Linked DNA regions of Homo sapiens: region 2 is linked to region 1. Evidence: fine-mapped expression QTL. A gene starts in region 1. The other region holds a variant in brackets. All regions are shown on one strand. Distances are between the middles of the regions. Region 1 holds the start of SNED1 (sushi, nidogen and EGF like domains 1). Region 2 holds the start of SNED1-AS1 (SNED1 antisense RNA 1).

Region 1 (8,321 bases):
GGGAGGAAGCAGGACTTCTGTTTGGGTCCCACTGAGTTTGGGGTGGCACAGTAAGAGGCAGCTGGACGCAGGAGTCTGAAGGCCCCTGAATCTGCATTCTGAGCCTCGGTTTCCTCATCTGCACTGGGCATGACGTCCTGCTCCATCCTCTCAGGGGCTGCCTGTGAGGTCCAGGCAGATCACAGCTGTCCTGGGCTCATGGCCTTGACCTGGAGTCATCAGGCTCTCTCACTCCAGCATCCTCCTCGACTCCAGCCCCATTCCACTTCCCCAGGATCCCCTTCCATCTGCTTCCGTCACACCCAGGCAGCAGCAAGAAGGGCATGCTGATGAGGGGCAGGACCACCTTGGCCAAGCCCATAGCAGGGGGTGGGCCAGCCCGGGAACCTCAGTGAATAGGGCAGCCAAGGGGAAGCCCAGGACCCTCCTCCCAGCCAAGGGGCTCCTGCATTTGCTGGGGTGTTCCATGAGCTCAGAAGAGAGCAGAGATGGCAGTGATTTCTCCCCACATGTCTGCTCCCAGATCCACTCATGCGCAGGCCTCGGTCCCACTGAGACAGTCCCTGTGGGTCAGGGTGGATTTTCCAGATGGCTTGGAGCTGGCGACCACACAACCGTGACAGTGATGGGGTGTGTCACAGGTATGACCTGATGGGGGAGCTTCACCACACAGATGGGGAGACAGAGGCTCAGGGAGGAAATGACCAGGCAAAGGTCACAGGCTGCATGTGAACTCCCACACCAGAGCAGCTGCCCTGGGCTCCGTGTTCTGGGAGGGGTAGGGCCGGGACTGTGCCTGGATGGTAATGTTGTGCAGAGCCAGAGCCAGCAGACTTGCGGTGTGGCACGAAGCCTCAGGGCACAGAGTGGGGGTTTAGCCAGCACCAGCGAGGGTCAGTCTGACTGTCCACATTCCTCCTTCTTGCCTGCGGGCTCTGCAGGGCACCACCCACTCTTGACCCTCAAATCCTCCCTGCCTCTGCTCAGGGCTCTGTCGGGGGTCCTGATGCCAAAGAAACTGAGATCCTCCCATGGCCCAGAGACCATGCTGTGGATGGGGGCAGTGCTTGGAGCCAGGAGCTTCAGTGTAGGGGGCACCAGGAAGATTTCGTCTCTCATTCCCTGCACCTGCCCCTAGGAAACCACTCCACCTGCATAAGCCCCACAGACCGCGGCAAGCTCCGTCTTAATGCAGACACTGGCAGTTCCTGCATGGCAGGATAGCGGCAGCATGCCACACTCCTCAGCACGCCACACTCCTCGGCGCGCCACGCTCCTCGGCTGCATTATCTTTGTCTGTGTGTAGAACCTTAGCAATAAAATGCACTTTCAACACTTTTCAGAGCCTTACGACTTACCACACACATACAGCTACTATGACATGAGAAAGAAGCAAAACAATGGGTCCCTTCTGGAAAGGGGGCCACTCCATGTGTGGCAGAGCTGTCTTGCTAGGGCAGTAATCCATGTGCTATTTCTGATGAAGACAGAAGAAGCACCCATCTCATGCAAGAGCACTTCTAATTTCTACCTGTGACTTGCAGGCAGTGTCAGAGGGAGGCACATTCATTCATTCAGACAACAAGCCTACTCTTGGTCAAGCGACAGGCTGGGGGCGGAGGAGCGCAGAGGTCACTGCAGTGGGATGGGGGCTGGAGGGTCCTGGCTGGGCCTGACATGGGAGTCTGAGTCCAGGGCCAGCAGACACGAGGCCCCTATAGACTGGAGCTGGACAAGGGCCAGAGCCAGGGGCCTCAGAAGAGGGTCCGCTCGGCCTGGGTGGGCGTGGGAGGCCCCAGGCAGGTCCACTTCCTTCAGAACAAATGCCTCCCTTCTTTCCACCTGGCTTCAGCCCTAACCTGCTGCCAAGCACCCCTTTCTCTCTCCCTGCTTGACCACAGAGTCCGCACAGTTACTTCAGGCAAGGTGTCCTGGGCAACGCAGCCTCAAGCCTCCTGCTGAGCAAACAGAAAGGTGAAGTGCACTGCAGGCACTGTGTCCACATCGGCAAATGGTTTTCAAATAATATCTTTGTTTCAGGAAAAAGCTCCGATGGAGATAAATGTTTTGTTAGCAGCCAGAAGGTTCATTTCTGACGAAACCCTAGTTCTCCTAGCAGATCTTCCCACGTTAGAGCTGTTTCCCCTAGTTGCTCTGGCAAGGGCAGATGTTTTTGGTGAGGCTGTTAAGTGGGTTAACCATTTTAATAATATTTTCACCTGTGACTGTGAGTGGGAAAGCTGAGCCTGGCCCAAATGCTTAAGGAGCCTCTTGAGTTCTGTTCGGATGGTGCCAATGTGAGTGTCCCATACCTCAAGTGGACAGGCCTCCTCCAGCTCGGGCCAACGCTGAGCACCATTCTGTCCTACCCACTTCGTACTTCCAGGAGTCAGTCCCGTTCCTCTGTCCAAGTCCCGGTCCAGAGGGACTTTCAGGGGGTAGCACCGACAGCATGGCTGCCCCTCCCACCAGTCAGGTCACCCAGTGCTGCCACCGAGGTGGGGAGGCCTTCCTGAGCAGGTGTGGAAAACGCAGTGGGCGCTGTGGATGGTGTTGGCAGTTGTGGGGTGGGAGGCGCACTAGAGGGCATGTGGTGGAGGAGGCCCTGTGGATGGAGGTGGGGAGGGATGATGACAACCATGCAGAGGATGTGGATGGTGACGACGGGAAGCTGGGGACCATGGGGAAGGTGGTGGTGGAGGCAGTGCTGCTGGTGGTGGGGTTGAAGGAGGTGGTGTTGACGGAGGAGTTGGCAGTACAGGTGGTGTTACTCCGGGCAGCACAGATGGCAGAGGCGATGTGGCTGGCAGTGGGTTGAGGCTGGAGGTGGGCGAGGGTATGAGAGGGCTGATGGTGGAGGTGGCCGTGGTGACGGAGCTGGAGGGGACTCTACTTGAGGCTGGCCCAGCAGTTTTCTAGATATGATCTGGGGTGTTTCAGGGAACCACCAGGTACCAGTGCACCGTGGCCTACTCAGGGCGAGTGCTCCATGCAGTTACCAGGTGCATTTCATTCCCTGGGCTGCCATAAGGGCTTGGCCTGGGGTCACACTCTGGGAGCCATGGAGACAGAACCGGCACTCGGGCCTGTTCCTTCAGCTGAGCTGAGCCTGCTGTCATGAGTCCCTGGCCCCAGGAGTCCCACTGGGAGTCCTGTTTGGAGAGTCTGAGCCTGAGCGGCCAGCCCCCAGACTGCGGAGAGGACGGCAGGGAGGGGCAAGCCTGTTGCTAGCCCGCCTAGGAGGGTCAGCGAAGAAGCAGGCCCTGCCCTGAGCGCCTGGGCAAGGGGTCCAGCCTCCTGGCTCTGGGCCGCACTGGCGTCCACGGGGGGCGGGGCTGAAATGGCCCAAGGAGGGGCTGCAACCTTCGCAGGCCCGGCGCCCCACTTGGGAAACTGAGGCCCGGGAAGCCCGTGCCCACGGCCACATTGCCATGTGTGAAAACCAGGGCAGTACCAGGACCCCTGCTCTCCCCTGGGAATCAGGCGCCGGGAAGACGCGCTCGGCAGGTCTGGCAGGGGCCGGGGCGCCGCGCTCCACTCGCCCCCGCCTCGGTGCCCGGCGGCTGCCGCCCCCGCCCCGCCCGCGCGCCTCTCCCGCGGGCCGCTGTCCGGCCTTGGCCGCCGAGGAGGAAGCGCTGTCCTCATTCCACCTCGGGCCGCCCCGGTGCCAAGTGGCTGGCGGCGGCGGCGGGAGTCCGGGCCCGGCGGGCAGCGGCCGGGGCGCAGCTCCCTCCCCTCCCGGGCGCCCCGCGAGCCCGGGGGTTACTCACGTAGAGTCCGGAGTGCTCGGCACCGAAGAACGGGAAGGGCACCGAGAGCGGCCGCAGCCCCGAGCCGCCGTCGTCCTGCTTGGGGGTGACGGCGTCGCCGCGCTCGGCGCCGAACGGGTAGAAGTCGGCAAGGGCCACCGCGCCGCGCACCCCGCGCGCCCCAAGCCCCAGGGCCGCGGCCACCAGCAGCGCCCAGGCGACGCCGTGCCGCATCGCGGAGGTGTGCGGGCGGGACGGGGCGCTGGCGGAGCAGGGCGCTGGGGGACTAGGCTGCGCGCGGGGGTGGCCGGCAGGGCCAGGCGGGGTGCGGGGAGCGCGGGCGCGCCCGCTGGCCGCGCCGTCGGGGGCTCCGCGTCCCGCGCCCGTTCGGCCGGGCCGCGCTCTCGCCGCAGCTCCGCAGAGGAAAGCGCCGGGCGGGACCGCGTTCGGGGCCAGCCCCGCCCCTGGGGCCACGATTTAAATATCCAGCCCGGCGGTCACTCGGGGGGGCGGGGCCATGCAAATCGGGCGTCTCTTAAAGCGCCAGGCCCCGTGGGAGGGCGCGGGCGCGCGGGGAGCTCAGTCCCCTGGCGTGGGCACAGGCAAGGTGAGGGCTCTGCGGGCGCGCGCCCTGTGGTGGGGCCATGCTCCGCCCTGGGTCCCTACCCTGGTGGAGGCGCCTGGGCCCTCAGTGCCGTCCTGGGACAGACCTGTGTCCCTAAGGCCTGAGACGCTGGGCCCGCCCTGAAGGCGTGTCATCACGCGGGGGGCGGGAGGGGACCCTGGCCAGGCAGTGCCTGAATGAACCCGTTCCGTGCTGCCCCCTTCCCAGCCCTGAGCATGGGGACGCCAGGCTTCCAGCCACAGGGGCAGACTAACCCCGGAGCCCACTCCCTGCCTGGGTCTGTGTGAGGAAGAGCCCGGGCCGGAGACTAGGAGGCATGGAACAAAGTGTTTGCATCTGCGTGGCCGCATCAGGAGAAATTCCTGGGAGGCTCGGGACCTCGGGGCGACCCCTGGGTAAAGCAAACCCTCCGTGGGGAAGACTGACCCACTCAGGCCCTGGGGGCAAGTGCGTGCATGACACCGGCCTTGGCAGGTGGGGGCAGGACTCTGAGTCCCAGTATTTGAATTCAGGGTCCCCACCCTGTGGCCTGCCAGCCCTGCCCCCTGTCTCTTGGGCTGCTGGCCTGGGCTGCCTGTCTGTCCTTCCTCAGGGCCTCAGCCGGGACCACCTCTATGTCCCCAGGCCCATGGCAGGGTCTGATTCCTGGAACTCACCCGGCCCACCGTGGTCTCTTCTCTTAGATCCTGGTGTTGGGTGGTGTTGGCTGCGTGCCACACTGGGGCCCCCAAAGATAAGAGTGCACCCCTCGAAGACAAGCAGGAAAGGCCGGGCTGATGGTAACTGCATCTACCACTGAGGTGCTGGGTGGTTTTTTGTTTGTCTTTGCGTTTGTATCTTCTGAAATATCTCAAGTGAGCACGTGTTGTTTTTCAGTGAGAGCCAGGCACAGTCAATGTTATTTTTAAGAAGCAGCGGAGGGTTCTCTGCGTGTGACTGGGTGTTGCCGGTTCTCACAGATCCTGCACTTGGTGTTTTCACTCAGAGGTTCATGACCCTTTAGACTTGGTGTCAGGGCCGGGTGCAGAATTGTTAAGGAGGAGCTGACCCTGCACTGGCACCTCCTGAAAGCTTGCCCCTGGCGCCTCTCCCACCCTGCATGGGGTGGCAATTCTGTTTGCAGAGAGGCAAACTGGGCCTGGGAGGGGAAGGGCTCTGTCCCGCAGTTAGCCCTTAGGTCACCGTCCCAGCTTTCAGAGCTCCAGGACAGCAGCACAGCCATGGTTCCAGGGCCAGAAAGGTCAAGGCCTCCTGTCTTTGGAGGGAGGCACCAGAGAGGGCGTGGAACTGTAGAATCCCTACTTGAGGCCGGCTCTCGGTGAGAGCCTGGCAAGGAGAGACATGTCTCCACGCACATGCACACACGTCCACGCACACATGCATACTTATTCACATGCACGGAGGCAGCATATGCCCATACGTGGGGCCTCAAGAACATGCTTTAACCCCTTCCTCAGCCCAGCCCTGGCCTCCCTGGTCAGGGAGGGCTGCTCCCACCTCTGGCTGGCACAGGCCGTGGAGTCAGGACAAGGCCCCATGTAGCAGCGTTGGGAACAGAGCTGCCAGGCGTCACCGTGGCGGGAATCAGGGAGAACGCTTTTCTATTTGTCTTTTTTCTAGAAAAACCTGGCAGCCCTCTACCCTCTTTTCAGTGCATTTGGGGCCTGGCTGGAAGGCCCCTCCGGTGAGTTTGCGAAGGTGGGAGGCGGCAGTGCCAACCCCAGGGCAGGATTTCTCCGCTGAAGAGGTGTTGTCATGGGGACGTGAGGCTTTGACCCCCACTAGGGCTGGCCCACCTCCTGCCCTGTCCCTACTACCCATCCACTTCCCACCACATGCTCCTGCTCTGCTCTCAGAGCCCAGCCTGGGGTGCTGCCTCCCAGCCAGCTGCCCAGGCCAGGCGCCCTTCTCCCCACTGCTGACCTTCTCTTGAGCACACAAGACAGGGACCTGGGTAACAACCCATTTCTGGGCTGGGTTTGGGTCAACTTGGGGGCAGGGCCGCCCAGGGCACCTTGGGGCACACAGTGGCACTCAGTGGCTGCACCGAGTGGAGGCCTGTTTCTTCAGGCGGGTGGGCTGGTGGGCCTCACGGGGGTCGCTGAGCAGTGCTGGAAACGCTCAGGCCCGTCCTCGTCCCAGAGAGTCAGAGCTCATGGGCCTGGGGCGTGGCTGGCAGTGGGCCAGACCCTGCTCATGGCCCAGAGAGGCCACACTTCCTCGGGCCTGTACCCTGCTGACCAGCCTCGGCCTGCACCCTGTGCAGATTTTCAGCCGGGCCCGGGGAGCTGGGGGTTAACAAAAGGCCCCGCTGCTGCTGGGCATTACATTTCATTAAAAAAAAAAAAAACAAAAAAAAAACAACACAACTCTGCAGGCAAAAAAGAGAAAAAAAAATGTTTTTCTCAGGTGCTAAAAATATTATCAGGAAATACTTTTCAGCAATGTGCTGTTTTAGGCTCCCCTCTGGACTCAAGGGCGCCTTTGTCTCTGCCACAGAAAATCCACATTTATCAAAACCAAAATTGTTTTATCAAGCAGGCTCATGTTCTGTGGCCAGGAAACCCGAGCCTCCCCAACCGGCCTGTGACATTTTAATTTAGGGCCTGAGCGTGTGTGCAATTTAGATGGGGTGCCCCGGGAGCTGCCCTCAGGATGCCCCAGGACTCGGGGCTCCACGCAGGCCAAGGTGGGGGTGCCCTCCCCAACCTGCACCTGGTTGGCTGGGCCTGTTTGGTCTTCACAGGGTGGAAGATCCTGGGGGTTCAGGCCTGAGCTGCCAGGGGCAGGGGCTGGCTGGCTGTAGCCCACCCTAACTTTCTCTCCTTCTCTCCCAGAAGTGGCAGGTGGAGTGCAGGTCCCCTGCCCCAGAAGCGCTGATCCCAAGTAAACCTCCACATGCTCCGGAATGAGGCCAGGAGGTCACAGGGACCAAGGGCCGCTCCACCTGCTCACCTGGTCACTGTCCTGTGTGGCTGGTTGGGGTCTTGGTGCAGTTGGCCCTGAGGGAGTGTGGGGGCCATGCAGCCTGCCCTGTACCTCCTCTTCTCATGCACACGGAGCCGCACACACATTGACTCCCATGACGGGACTTCTGTGGTTGCTCTTAGGGAAACGATGGGACTGGGGTTCAACACTTCCTTCCCAGGATGTTCACTGCTGCGTGGGCTCAGGCATCGGCTCTCCCTGTCCTGGGGATGACGAGACCCTGCCTCCCGTTGAGAGCCTTGTCCATCTCCTGAGTGCCCAAGACAGGACAGAGCCCCATTCTCTGTGGGCTCCAGGATGGCAGGGACAGCCAGCAGTGGAGGGACACTCAGGCCCAGGGTCCTCCGATGCCCCGGAGCTTCCGCAGCAAAAAAACCATGCTCTGAGACGTTTTTAGTGATTCGGGAAAACTCTAACGGTATTGTGTCAAGCAAAAGTTTTAAAAAATAGTACTCTGAGTAGCATCCACGCTATGGCCTCAACCGTCCTAAGCACACGTGTGCTAGAAAAAGGGAGAGTTGGGTGTCACCTCGGGGCTCTGCAGGTCACAGATTATGGTGGTGGTTACATTCTCCTTTCTATGTTTCCCTGCTAACATTTTTTGCAATTAATTTGAAAAGTATGAATGTTTTGGAAGCCCAGATAAACAATGCCCTTGGTTCCAGCTGGCCGGCTTCCTGCCCCGGCTTCAGCCAACCAAAGCTTGTGCTTCCCTCAACCTGGGGTGCTTCAGAGGGCTGGCCTGTCCTTGGGTGCCGCCGTCTGCGTTCAACATGGCCCCTCCTCCAGTGCCCCCTCCCCAGGGGGCCTTCCTCTCCCATTTGTCCCCTCCCTGTGTTGGTCTGCAACCCCTGGATGCCTGCAAAGGGTGCTGCCCCCGGACCCAGGCACCTGAGGGCCTGTCAGAGCGTCGGAGCTTCCTGGCCAGAGGCTGGATGGGACCCTCCAACAGCCCCTGC
Region 2 (8,321 bases), 65 kb before region 1:
GCTCTGGCCTCCAGGGCTGACAGCTGCAGAACCCGCTGTGAGCATGACGGCTGCAGAGCCCGCTGTGGGCCAGCCCGTCTTACCAGAGGCAGGGGTCTTAGTCTCCATTTAGATGTGGCAGTGACATGGCAGGGGATGGGCCGGAGTCCCTCTGGACATGAGTAACCCGGACCTCCCCTTTTCTGTGCCAGTTGACTATTTTGGTCTAAGAGCACACATCCGGGCCTGGTCTGGGCAACGCTGTCTTAGGAGGACAGACATACAGAACTCCCAGCAACTGCAGGGAAGGGGCCACTTGTGAGCTCCGCTTCCCGCCCAGCCAGTCTCCTCCGAAGCTCCAGTGCCACTGCTGATGCACCAGGCAGAGCCCAGAGGGCAGCGCTCAGCTCCCGGCAACTCAGCACCCCGGTCTGTGGACAGCGGTCCCTTCCACCCACCATGGCTGGCTGGAGCCCCAACTCTGCAGCGGGCAGGGCGGGCTCTGTCTTCACTCCAGATACCTTCCGAGGGCAGATCTCACATGGGGCGGCCTTGCAGGTGCTTCTTCCTAAAACAGCCCAGGCGAGCCACCCCTACTCAGCCCCTGGCAGCTCCTGCTGACACCTGCTCAGTGCCACCCGCACATGCGCCCAGGCTCTCCACTGGCCGAGGTGTGCTCTGTGTCCTTGCTGTGTTGGGAACTCCAGCCCCTTGGTGGTCAACTCCTGCAGGACAGGCCCTTGTGGGCCTCTGGGTGGGCTCAAGCTGCCTTGAATGCCTTCTCCTGTCCCTCAATGCCCTTGGCATTGGCATCAAGCTAGGGCCCAGGTGTGGCCAGGAGGCTTTCCTCCTGTGAGAACCGCCGAGCTCCTCCCCACCTACCCGCCATGCTACCCATAGGTTTCACCAAACTCACGTGGCCGCCCCGCAGGGCCCTGCTGGATGCTTAGGCCTCCCTGAAGCCCTGGCCACCCACCCACCCATCCATCCATCACGCCACTTCGCAGCAGTCTGTGCTCTCAGCACCTTTTCCTCTTTCCTCGAGCCTCTAGCACCCCTTCCCCATTCTTGCTCCTGTGTCTGGAGGCCACAGGCATGTTGGGTGAGAGTCCCATGGCCCCATGGCCCTGCACCCCACTTGGTTCCTGCCCAGCCTGTTCCGAGATCCCCTGTGCTCTAGCTGATGCGGCCGGGCTCCGTGGAAGGCCAGCCCTCTGCTTTCTTCCGGCCCTGCCCCTGTCCGTCCACTGCCATGTTCTAGGGCTCCTTTCTCCTTCCCAGAATCCCTCCCAGCAGCACACAAGCCCGCTAAGCCCTGACGCCTTCCCTAGAGCGCTCAGCATCTTCTGCTCCCCGACACGGCAACAACCCCACAGGCTGTGCACAACCCGGGCCTCCCCTGCAATCTTGGTGGCTCAGGCTCTGAGGAGGCTCCTCCTAGGACCCCCTCTTCAGGGGTCACATCTGGTCACAGCTTTCAGTGCCAGCTCCAGGTGGAGGCTCTGGGTCTGTCATTCCATCTAGGGCCTGCCCCACGGCTCTTCCCGATTGAGCCACCGATGCCTCCCCTTAGCACACCTCAGCGCCTACATATCCCTGTGAGCAGGTGCCTCTTTCAAACTCTCCCCAGGCCTTCAGAGCACCCCAGAGTCCCAGCCCCCCCAAGCCCACCCCCGCGGCCCCTGTCTCCCACACTGGCTCCTTCTAGGGACCCTTTTGGGAAGCCCCCATTCCTCCCCAGTCCCACTTCCTAGCTCCATGCCTGGGGGTTGTGCTGCTCCCACTCTTGGCTCGATTCTATGCGCCCCAATCCCATGCCTGTATCTTGTGGACCCAAGGCCACTCCCACACAGCTCTGTCTCCAGCAGGGCGGTGCCTCCAACCCCCAGCTCAGCTGTCTGTCTTGCTGCTGCAAGAACTAGGAGGGTGGACGGCATGACAGCCGCCCTGCAGGTGCCGGGGCCAGCGCTGCCCTCGAGGGGCAGGGGCTGGGCAGGGACGGCCAGGCTCGGGGACACTCACGCGTGCGGGCCAGCAGCACGGCAGGCCTGCTGATGTCATTCTTGTTGTTACTGTTTCGCTTCACTGAGAAGACGGAGATGTTGTAGGCCCTGCCGGCCGCCAGGGCCTGGAGCTGGTGCGAGGAGCGGGTCCTGTCCACAAAGTCTGTGCGGCGGTAGGAGCCGTCGGAGGAGACGTAGGTGACCGCGTAGCCATCAAGCATCTGCCTGGCGGCTGGACCATTGGGCGGGTTCCAGGAGATAGAGACCCCACTCTCCTCCACTCTCTCCATCTTGAGGGCCGTCGGTGGGAAGAGCTCTTCAGGGTTTGGGTCAAAACAAGGGGAGGGGACTGGTCAGCCGTTAGCTATGCATGCCTGGCTCCCGTCGGCGGCTCAGCCGGGTCTGGCTCTTGGGCCTGACACAGCCATCGCTGGCAGAGTCCTTCTTTGTCCCTGGCCACGTACCTCCAGGAGGGTCACACTTTTGAATGTGTGACCGTGTTTCAAGCCCACCGGGGGATTTTATCCCCTCCCTGTTCCTCAGGGAAGGGGCCTGGGCAAGCAGCGGCCAGACGCTCTGCCCTTGGAGACCGTTGGGCCCTCTAGGGAGAGGGGACCCCCTCGTGGCTCCCTCACTGGAGGCGCCCTCGCCACCCACCTTTGGCGCAGTCCTCGCCCGTGTAGCCCACTTTGCAGGTGCAGCTGTGGGAGCCGTTGCTGGCCAGGCAATAGCCACGGCCCCCACAGGGGCTGGAGAAGCAGGGGTCACTCACTGAGGGGAGAAAAAGTGGCAGTGTATGTTGGGGCGTGGCCAGGGGTCCCTGCTCCAGCCCCGCCCTTGCTCCTGGGGCACTGGGTCCCTCCTGCGTGGGTGTGGAGGGGCGGGGGGCACAGGACAGCTACTGCCTCCCTTCGGTTCTGCCACCTCCACTGCCCTGCGGGGCCCAACCCAGCAGCTCCTCCACCCTCCACAGCGGAGTGCCACCAGCCGGACTGGCTGAGGGGAGGAGACACTGGATCAGGACAGGACAGGCCACCACCCCAGTGACAGTCCTGCTTGAGGAGGGGAGGTCAGTGGTCAGGGAAGCCTCATCAGGAGGTATCCCACTGGGGGCTGATTAGGGAGAATGTTCCAGATGGAAGGACAGCCAGGGGCCAGACCTGGGTGTGCAAGAAACTTGGCCTGTCCAAGGGCAGCAGGGCCTATGTGTGGACGTGAGGCCCCACCCCTGGGTGTGTCCTCGGGTGAAGAGGGGTGTCTGGGGGGTGAGCGCAGGAGATGGGGAGGTTTAGAAGGCACCATTGTGGGACCAAGGGAGACAGGCGGAGGGCCACTGGCCTGAGAAGGGG[A/C]CTTCCAAGGCGGCGGGCAGAGGGCGGGGAGCAGGCGGGCAGAGGGCGGGGAGCAGGCGGGCAGAGGGCGGGCAGCAGGCGGGCAGAGGGCGGGGAGCAGGCGGGCAGAGGGCGGGGAGCAGGCAGGCCTGCCGCCCTACCTGTCTCGCAGTGGTAGCCGAAGAAGCTCTCTGGGCAGACGCACAGGTAGGCCCCGCCGCCGCTCTCACACCGGCCTCCATGCTGGCAGGGGCTGGAGTCGCAGGCGTCCACCTCTGGAGAACACCCAGAGAGTGGGCCCAAGCTGCAAGGGGGGAGTCTGGGGGAGGGAGGAGAGGACAGCGGGAAGAAGGGAAAGGAGGAGTCTAGGGGCGGAGGCCAGGAGAGAGGGGCAGTGGGCAGGTCCCGCCCCTCAGCCCTCCCCAGCACCCTCACCTCCACCCCTCCCTCCCAAGGTGGCCGCAGCCCTGGGGGTCCCTCTCCCCAGGTGGCCTGCCCAGCAGGGAATGTGGGGATGCCCCACCTCCTCTCTGATCTTCCAGAGGCCCAGGCTCTGCATGTGGGGCCCACTGGAGGGAGCCCCTACCTGTCTCACAGTGGACTCCAACGAAGCCTGCAGGGCACCGGCAGACATAGGCCCCTGGGAGGTTCCTGCAGGACCCTCCATTTCTGCACGGGTGAGCTCGGCACTCATCCCTCTCTGCACAGAGAAGGGGTGTCAAGGGTGTTGCTGGCTCAAGTCTGAGGCGCCCACATGCCCCCAGGATTCCGTGCATTTCCTGGGGCTTCAGTTACCCCTTTCCCAGCTGGGAGCAACTACTCAGGACATGTGCTTTTTCTTCCATCAGCCCCAAACCCACCCCTCCTCGGGAGGCGTGCCACCTCCACTGCCTGCTGGCAAAGCCCCACCTCCAGGCCATGCCTTCCTCCAGGCCACTCCGCAATGGGAGGCTCCCCAGGGCCACGACTGGGCACGGCTCCCTGGGCCTTGCCCTCCCTGGAGCCTGCGTTTCTCAGGCTTAGAGCCCTAGCGAGGTACAAGAGTGTGCAGGGCTCATGGGGCAGGCCTCCCCTCCCTCCACTGGCTGGAAGCACCGACCAGGTGTCAGAGACTGTGACCTGCCCTCTCCGACGCCCACCTTCTCTGCGCCCTGAAGCCAGGCCAGCATTTCTCAGCTGGGCTCTCAGTCTCCCCTGGGGAGGTGCAGGAAGGGATATTTGTAAAATCTTTGTCTTGGATGTCAGAGCTGGCAGGGGCCCGAGAAAGCATGCAGTGGCCACCCTGGCCATCCAGACAGAGACCTGTCCGGGGGACCCAGTGCCTCAGGCACATGGCCAGTGTGCTGCAGCTGTCACCCCAGCGGGGCCAGGGCCCCTCTTACCCAGCTCACAGTGGGCGCCCTCATAGCCTGTGCTGCAGAGGCACAGGTACCCAGCAACGCGGTCCTGACAAGAGCCCCCATGCAGGCACGGCTGAGACCGGCACTCATCGATTTCTGAGAGGAGAGAGCCCAAGAATAAAGCAATGTGGCCACGATTAAGCCAAATTAAGATGCACATAAACTAGTCCTGAGGGGCCAGACAGAATTCGATGATACATCATCAGTGGTTGGAAAGGCCAGAGACCAGGGCTGGATATCCTTGGAGTCGGGGCAGGGCAGTGGGCCTGGGGCTCAGTGCCTGGCTGTGTCTGTGAAGCAGCAGGGCGGGCTTGAAACCACCCCAGGGCTCCCAGAAGACGCTGTGGGACTTAATTCCAGTGGTTCAGGCCGACAGGACAAAGGCCTCAGGGGTTTGACAGAAAATGTCTCATGTCCCATCTTGCCATTTCAATGTATAATAGTCACCTGTGAAACCAGTCCATCTGGGACAAATCTTGGTTTTAAATGATTCACCACAGCTTTCTTTTCAAGCGGGAGTTGTGCTCCTGAATTTAAATATTTATTTTTTTAAAGTTTAATTTCATGCTTAAAAAGTAAATAAATGGTAATGACTTAGTGACATCTGGGACTAGCAGCCACCCCGGCAGCCAGAATGCTGAATGGGCTCATCCGACCGTGTACCCTTCTCTTCCCTTGCGATAAGAATCTCTGGGTTTATAATTTCCTTGTCTTTAAAAACTAGGTTTTCTGGCAGTAAAATATGTAATTAAAATTAGCTTAAAAATTTTATAAATTGCCTAAACAATAGTGAATGTTTTTGTTGTTTATGAACTTTATTCATAGTACATCATGATATATATTGTCTTCTCTCAGCATTATATGAAGAAGAGAACTCCACACTGTAGGTCACTGTGGTTCATAGATTTTCACTGCTGAATAACATTACACAGTGTGGTTATATCATACTTCACCCATTCTCACTGGCTGGGTCTTTGGGTTGGTTCTAGACTTTTTCCTTTTTTTGTTTTCTTTTTTTCTTTTTTTTTTTTTGGGGGGATGGAGTTTCGCTCGTTGCCCAGGCTGGAGTGCAGTGGCATGATCTTGGCTCACCACAACCTCCGCCTCCCGAGTAGCTGGGACTAAAGGCGCCCACCACCATGCCCGACTAATTTTTGTATTTTTAGTAGAGATGGGGTTTCACTATGTTGGCCAGGCTGGTCTCGAACTCCTGACTTCGTGATCCGCCTGCCTCAGCCTCCCAAAGTGCTGGGATTACAGGCATGAGTCTACGCCCAGCCTAGACTTTTTGCTTTTACAAAAAATGTTGCTGTGTATATTCTTTCCCATCTCCTGGTGCAGACGTGAAGTTTTTCTTAGGTTTATACCCAGAAGTGCAATTGCTGGAACACAGTTGACGTAAATGAGCAACAGTGGGCAGATTGCTCAACAGGCAGAGTGCCACATTGTTTTCAAAGTGCTTCTAGCAATTTATACTCTTGCCAGCAATGCATAAGAAATCTTGTTGATCCACATTCTCACCGGTATAGGCTTTTCAGACTTCTGAAAATTTACCAGCTGAATGTACCTCATTGCACTTTTGATTTGCATTTCCCTGATTACTAATGAAATAGAATATTTCTTTTTATGTTTGTTGGCCTTTTGTATCTCTTCTTCCATGAAATGCCTATGCATGTTTTTTTTTCTATTTTCCTATTAGGTTGTTTTCTCATTGATTTATCAGAGTTCTTCATGTAGTCTTGAGACTATTTATCTCTTCTCCCAGTTTGTAGTTTAGATTTCACTTTCTTAAGGTTTATGGATTTAGGTTCTAATTTTCATATGGTCAAGTATGTTCATCATTTCTTTTTAAATTCTTTTTGTGGCTTAAGGAGTCTTTCACTACCCCAAAGTCAAAAATATATTTACCTATATTTTCCACACAAAATTATATAGTTTTTTTTGGTTGTTTTTTTTTGAGACAGGGTCTCACCCTGTCCCCCAAGCTGGAATGCAGCGGTGCAATCACAGTTCACTGCAGCTTTGAACTCCGGTTTCAAGTGATCTTCCCACCCTAGCCTCCTGAGTAGCTGGGACTACAGGTGCATGCCACTACGCCTGGTTAATTTTAGTTTATTTTTGTAGAGTTGGGGGTCTCTCTATGCTGCACAGGCTGGGCTCAAACAAAACTCCTGTCTTGGCCTCCCAAAGTGCTGGGATTATAGGCATGAGCCATGTGCCCGGCCCTGTATAGTTTTTTTTTAAAGAAACATTTAGGTCTTTAATCCACCTGGATTTAATTCCAGTGTATGAAAAATAGAGAACCAATATAATATTTTTCCAAGTACAAAACCATTGTATTCCAGCTCTCATGAATATTTTCTCATATGCTTTTGTATTTCTTTCTTTTAGAAGTTTATAGTTAGGGACGGGCATGGTGGCTCGCGCCTGTAATCCAGCACTTTGGGAGCCCAAGGCGGGTGGATCACCAGAGGTCAGGAGTTCAAGACCAGCCTGGCCAACATGGTGAAACCCCGTCTCTATTAGGAATACAAAAATTAGCTGGGTATGGTGGTGAGTGCCTGTAATCCCAGCTACTTGGGAGACTGAGGCAGGAGAATCGCTTGAACCAGGGAGGCGGAGGTTGCAGTGAGCCGAGATTGTGCCACTGCACTCCAGCCTGGGCAAGAGTGAGATTCTGTCTCAAAAAAAAAAAAAAAGTTTATAGTTTTAGCTTTTACATTTATGTTTATAGTTCCTTTTACGCATTTAAAAATTTATCATGTTTTTGATGCTATTAATGTAACACTTTCATTTCAAAGTGTTCACTGCTACAACAGGTTCTATATACTGACCCTGTATCCTGGGATCTAGTTGAATTCACTTGTTAGTTCTATAGCTTCTTTTGTAGAATTTCCTTAGGATTTTCTATGCATACAATCATGTGATCTCTAATTCTTTCTTCCTTTCCTTCCTTTTATTTCCTTTTCTTGTCATCTGGCACTGTCTAGGGCCTCCAGGAAAATGCTGGGAATACGTACTGAATGGACACCTTGCCTTGTACGGATTCCAGGTGGAGTCTTTCACCACTGAGTACACTGGTAGCTGAGGTTTTTAATGGATGTCCTTTATCAGGTTGAGGAAATTATCTTCTACTCTTAGTTGACTAAGAATTTTAAATACCAGTTGAATTTGTCAAATAATTTCCTGCATCTATTGAGATATATAGTTTTCTCTTTCATCTCCTAATATGATGAAGTACATTGATTGACATTAAAAGTTAGACCAACCTGTGTCCTTGAGAAAAATCCCACTTGGTCATGACTGTATCATTCTTTTATATAGTACTGAGCTTGACTTAGTAATATTTTGTTTGGATTGTTGTGTCTATGTTCTTGAGAGATACCAGTCTGTAACTTCAAATTTTGTAGTGTCTGTGTCTGGTTTTGGTATCAAGGTGAGTTGAGAAGTTATCAAATAAGTTGGGTATCAATTGAGTTTGGTATCAAATGAGAAGTGTTCTTCCCTCCTAGATTTTCTAAAAAATATGTAGCTCTTTCTAAAAGAGGTTGTACAAAGTTGGTATCATTCCTTTCTTAAACATTTGGTAGAATTCATCCGTGAAGCAATCT

Evidence for each region.
Region 2: its variant is fine-mapped to the expression of SNED1 in whole blood (TOPMed, PIP 0.98).

The regions. Positions count from the first base shown.
Region 1 is chr2:240,994,500-241,002,820 of GRCh38, reverse strand. It overlaps SNED1 (sushi, nidogen and EGF like domains 1), which reads right to left and starts at 4,203. Exons shown (of 32, transcript NM_001080437.3): 1 at 3,771-4,203. The coding sequence starts at 3,983. RefSeq lists a silencer at 4,152-4,571.
Region 2 is chr2:241,059,276-241,067,596 of GRCh38, reverse strand. It overlaps SNED1 (sushi, nidogen and EGF like domains 1), which reads right to left. Exons shown (of 32, transcript NM_001080437.3): 17 at 4,693-4,806; 18 at 3,897-4,010; 19 at 3,472-3,585; 20 at 2,640-2,753; 21 at 2,002-2,298. SNED1-AS1 (SNED1 antisense RNA 1) reads left to right here and starts at 3,479. Exons shown (of 3, transcript NR_187212.1): 1 at 3,479-3,517. It also overlaps a transcript of MTERF4 not described here. RefSeq lists a silencer at 3,371-3,530. The variant A/C (reference allele first, on the strand shown) is at 3,332.